Linked DNA regions of Homo sapiens: region 2 is linked to region 1. Evidence: fine-mapped expression QTL. Tissue or cell type: substantia nigra. Region 1 holds a variant in brackets; the other region holds the start of a gene. All regions are shown on one strand. Distances are from middle to middle.

The links. PIP is the estimated chance that this variant, and not a neighbour inherited with it, causes the effect.
Region 2: it holds the start of TRAPPC4, and the variant in region 1 is fine-mapped to the expression of TRAPPC4 in substantia nigra (GTEx, PIP 0.99).

The regions. Positions count from the first base shown.
Region 1 is chr11:118,080,225-118,082,978 of GRCh38, reverse strand. The region is part of intron 1 of SMIM35 (small integral membrane protein 35); the gene reads left to right. All of the region lies in intron 1 of TMPRSS4 (transmembrane serine protease 4), which reads right to left. Among named protein-coding and RNA genes, the nearest start is that of TMPRSS4, 4.5 kb to the right of the region's middle. The variant C/T (reference allele first, on the strand shown) is at 1,603.
Region 2 is chr11:119,017,309-119,019,935 of GRCh38, reverse strand. TRAPPC4 (trafficking protein particle complex subunit 4) reads right to left here and starts at 1,170. Exons shown (of 5, transcript NM_016146.6): 1 at 966-1,170; 2 at 619-793. The coding sequence starts at 1,140. It overlaps RPS25 (ribosomal protein S25), which reads left to right and starts at 1,593. Exons shown (of 5, transcript NM_001028.3): 1 at 1,593-1,654; 2 at 1,883-1,978; 3 at 2,391-2,574. The coding sequence starts at 1,652. RefSeq lists enhancers at 599-1,297, 1,552-1,781, 1,802-1,871 and a silencer at 1,192-1,311.

The DNA.
Region 1 (2,754 bases):
TGTCCCATACGAGGATTCTGCATTTGATTTCAGTGGAGCTAAAGGCTCTGAGGTCAAAGTACGCTTGGGGAACCCACTCGCCGAGAAGACCTCTAAGGTTTTTCCTTAGGGTCTGTGATTCTGAAGAGCTCACTCTCAGCCTGAAATTTCTCTTGTCTCCTCCCACAGATAGGATTAGTCCTAGGCCTGATCCACTTATAATATTCTCTCTTTAAATCAATTTTCTATCGTTAATGGTCTCCTGGTAATTTGGGTTTTTTTTTCCCTGAGCAGCATTGGGTATGAAACTTTAGTTTAGTCTTCTTGAAAGTCTAAGTTAATTATAGCTACTGGTTTTCCCTTTGCCCTTGGCTGAATGACCCTTTTCAAGTCATGAACCTCTTTGAGCCTCAATTTCTTTCTTTCTTTCTTTTTTTTTGAGACCGAGTCTCACTCTATTGCCCAGGCTGGAGTGCAGTGGTGTGATCTCGGCTTACTGCAACCTCTGCCTCCTGGGTTCAAGCGATTCTCATGCCTCAGCTTCCCGAGTCGCTGGGATTACAGGCGTGAGCTACTGCGCTCGGCTAATGTTTATATCTTTAGTAGAGATGGGGTTTCACCATGTTGGCCAGGCTGGTCTTGAACTTCTGACCTCAGGTGATCCGCCCACCTAGGCCTCCCAAAGTGCTGGGATTACAGGCATGAGCCACCACACCCGGCTGAGCCTCAATTTCTTCATCTGTAGAATGAGGATTACAATGTCTCAGAGAGTTGTATTAGACTGAAGGGAGATTTTGGATGTGAAAGTGCTTCTCAAAGCACAACATGGGGCCCTTGTTGCATTTGGATAGAGATGTGATACTGCCGCTGTAGCTATTATTCTCTTTAAGACCACCAGTGACTCCTACGTGTCCGGACAGGTTCTCCCAGCAGCCTGGCAAGACCCTCCTCTCTGGAGACTGGAGATGTGATCGTGAGTGATGTCAGGGTGGAGATGGGATGAAGGTGAGGGGGCTGACCTTGGCTCTATGTTTAGCCCCTTCTTGTGGACATCAGTGAGTGAGTGAGTGTCAGGCTTTGTCTGGAGTGTGGGAAAGCAGTCTCCCCTGCTCCTGTTCCATCTATGGAGTGCACAAAACTGAAGGCCTAGATTTTACATATTCTCTGAATCTTCCATGGTATCTTGCCAGTACCTAGCACATAGTAGATGCTCAGGGAACACATGCTGAATGAATGAATGAATGAATGCATACAGATTTAGAGGAAGAAACTGAGACAGCAGGATATGCTGAAAGCATTGGTTGGCTCAACCGCACCAGCGGGCGACGCCCAGCCAGACTGATGTGCAGGACATTTTGTGACAGGAGACGCGACTGCCACCCCTGGACAGGTGCGCACGCCTGGACAGGGGCCATCATGTCTCTCACCCTCTTCCTCAAGTGTTCCTTTCATCTGCTACCCTTCGAGAGTTTCTGGTTGCACGTGGATTATGCGAGGAAGCTGGAGGGTGCTCTGGGGGCCACGGGCAGGGGAGGACTGTTGCGGTTTTCCATCTTGTTTACACATTTCTCAGCTGCCGACGTGCTGGTTAGTCAGAGTGGCAGGCTGGGAGGTGGCGTTAGA[C/T]GTGTCACAGGGGGATTGCCACATTGGCTCTGCCCCACTCTTCCCCTTCCCTATCACCAGGGTTTCCGGGCAGGCTCAGACCTGTGCCTCCCTCATGCCCATCCCCCTCTGGGATAAAAACACTTTAGTAACCCCTCAGATAGATCTGGTATGTTTTCCAATTGGACTTCGGGTGAGCCTTGTTTTCAGTGTCAGATAAATCAGAAATTGGTTATAGGGGATTCTGTCTTTGATTATTTACCTGTCATCCATCAATCCACTCATTCATTCATTCACATTTACTAAGTGCCTAGTCCATGCCATGGATGCCATGCCCTGTGCTAGGTTTGCGGCTAAAAGCAGAAAAGACACAGACCCTGTCCTCAAGAAGCTCCCATTCTGGTGGCAACAGGTTTAAAAGAAAATGTGGTAGATGATTGCACTTTAGGTTTGGAGGAGTTCACTGTCCCAGGGAATCCTTGCTTGGGAACTTGAAGCGTTTTACTGAGGCTGATGTTTTCACCTGAGCAGGAAGGAAGACTGAGGGCAGAAGAGGCACCTGGGAAGTCTGAGGCCGTGGAGATTTTCAGGCCTGAAAGCATTTGTCTCCTGCTGCCCTGGGGCGTTTCTGGGGCTTTGGGAAGCTTGTCGGCAGTTCCCCAGCTCTGTTTTGGGTCTGTTTTTCTCATCTCTCCCTCTACCCATGACCCCCTTGAGCTGGTCTCTCCTCATTTCTTACATTCAGCTCCTCAGATCTCTTGGGCTTTGGCATGGGTCTGGGCTAGGGAGGTGGCTGCTGGGTTCTCAGCTGCACTGAGGGAAGACTGAGAGGAGGAGAGAGGCCTGGGGTCACGCAGGAGCCCTGACATCTGAACCCCTTCTCCAGGGAAGCACCCAGGCACAGAGCTTGACCCCCAGGGTCAGGCTGGAAGCGCCCTGGGAGATGGACAGGGCCTGGGGATGCAGCTTCCACCTCGGCAGGTGCAGCTCCCATGACCTGGAGTGCCGGAGTCTTTGCTCCAGCCACAGCGAGAGCCTGTTGTCCCTATACTACCACTCTTTCTTGCTGTTCACACATGCAGTCCCCTGTGTCTGGAGCTCCTTCCTGCTTTCCCTGCCTGGAGAGAGCCTGCCCATCCTTCAGAGTCCAATGCAAATAGTTTCTCTTCCAGG
Region 2 (2,627 bases), 940 kb before region 1:
ACTTTGGGTAAAATGAATACTCTAGGAATATGTGCCACGCTTACTAAGCTTGTGTTTAAGCAAAGGCCGGCACATCTGATATCACAATTGAGAGCAGAAAAAGTTTAAAGGTCATTTAGTTAAACTGGCTTTCTTTAAATATGAAGAAACTAAGGCTCAGAGAAGAGAAGTTGACTTTAAGTAAGATGACACCTCGGCCGGGCGCGGTGGCTCACTCCTGTAATCCCAGCACTTTGGGAAGCCGAGGCAGGTGGATCACCTGAGGTCAGGAGTTTGAGACCAGCCTGGCCAACATGGCAAAACCCCTCTCTACTAAAAATACAAAAATTAGCTGGTCGTGGTGGCACGCGCCTGTAATCCCAGCTACTCGGGAGGCTGAGGCAGGAGAATCGCTTGAACCTGGGAGGCAGAGGCTGCAGTGAGCCGAGATCCCGCCACTGCGCTCCAGCCTGGGTAACTCCGCGGCCCCTCCCCACCCAGCAAAAAAAGATGACACCACTGCCGTTATTACCTAAAATCTAGATCTGGATCGGTTGCGTTTTTCATAACACCAGAACGACGATTTAAGAAAAGGTAGACAAATTACAAGCGCTGCCGTTCAGGAGACGGGGGACTTACGAGTGGAACATGGAGGCCAGCATAAGCTTCTCATTAGAAGTGAGGCGGGGCCGGCCAAATCGAATGGACACCGGGTAATTAGCAGGGTTACCCAGATACTCCAGCACCTCTTTCCCGTCGGCCGTGTACCTGCCATTCACGTCCATGCCATTGATGGCCAGCACTGCATGACCCACTGCAGAGGTGAAGCTAACGGTCAGCGAAGGTGCAGCCCGGGGATTCCGCCGAGGGGACAAGGGACCCGACACAACCCCTTTTCCCCCAACCCCGCACCTACAACCAGCCCACTTCTACAGCACTGGGGCCCTCCCACCCCCGCACCCGCCACGGGCCCGAGCCTAGCCCACCTCGGATGCCGTCCCGCTGGCCGAAAGCAACCAACACACGCTCATCGTGTAGCTTGAGCAGCAGATCCAGCGGATAACTGAAAGTTTTCTCAGCCTCAGCCCGTGGCGCGTAGCTGTCCAACTGGTAAATCAAGCCGCCAGCTTTGTTCACCACATACACACTAAAAATCGCCATCGCTGCCTTGCCGCTCGGAAACTGGTATTCAGCCTCTACCCGACGGCCCCTCCCCGGAACCGCATCACAGCACTTGCCGCCGGCCCCACCCCAGCCTCCTCCTCCTCCTCCTCCTCCTCCCGCGCCCCCCGTGCAGCCACCTGCTGCACTTGCGCACTGGGAGCGACACGCTCGGGCATAAGTAGTGCCGGAAAGTTAGCTGCCGAGACCTGGTGGATTGCTTTTCGTTTATCAGTGCAGGAAAACAGCGCTATAGTATGCGTCACAACTAGCGCAGACTCCGGCAGTATTTAGGCGGTGCGGCTTGGGAACTAGAATCCACTTCCTGTCTTCCGCCTCAGGCTAGAGGGCGAGCGCTTCGCCGTGGGACTTCTTCTGCCTGGCTCCGCCTTTTGCCCCGGAAGTACTCACAGCGGACGGTGGTTTTTGGGCCCGTTTCTGAGCAGCGCTTCCTTTTTGTCCGACATCTTGACGAGGCTGCGGTGTCTGCTGCTATTCTCCGAGCTTCGCAATGGTAAGCTTCAGGGGTGTGAAGTCGCCGGCGTTCTTGGGTTTGAGGACTCAGTGGGGAGAGCCTTCGGCGGGAGCGCTCCTTGGCCTGCCGGCCTCGGTTGCAGGGCGGGCGCGGTTATTGCTTGGCCCATGTGCTCTGGTGGTGGAGTTTGCGGGGGCTGAGGGCGCAGTATTAGGGGACTTTGGCGCTATTTGAGGACCTGGTTGCATTCCCGCTGCCCTCCTACAGCCGCCTAAGGACGACAAGAAGAAGAAGGACGCTGGAAAGTCGGCCAAGAAAGACAAAGACCCAGTGAACAAATCCGGGGGCAAGGCCAAAAAGAAGGTAGAAATAAGACCTCTCTGAAAGAGACTAGGGGTAACTCTCTCGTAATCCTCTAGTAATAGGTAACTTGTATAGTAAGTGGTTTTTCAGGTGTAGATTTCTAGAGTCAAAATGTGAGAGTTTATCTTCCCGTCACCACTCGTTCTTTTTCCCATTAGGATCATGAAAATGGGTCTGTTGTGCGAAGTGTCTGCCGCTGTGCCTGCTGTGTTATTTTTAACTGATCTAGTGGGGCTCGGCCCCTGTTTGAAGGCCAAAAACGTGTCGGTGTTTTTTTTTTGTTTTTGTTTTAGTAATGTGTAATTTATCCTTGATAACGGTGGAACAGATTTCTCTGACGCAGATTACTCGAGAGGGAAAGGGTGCTTCTGCCAGAAATACTAACTTGTTTCTGTTTTGTTTTGGTGAGCAGAAGTGGTCCAAAGGCAAAGTTCGGGACAAGCTCAATAACTTAGTCTTGTTTGACAAAGCTACCTATGATAAACTCTGTAAGGAAGTTCCCAACTATAAACTTATAACCCCAGCTGTGGTCTCTGAGAGACTGAAGATTCGAGGCTCCCTGGCCAGGGCAGCCCTTCAGGAGCTCCTTAGTAAAGGTGAGGGGTGTATCCTACATGTGTGTTTTTGTAGGTTAAATTGTCTTGACCAT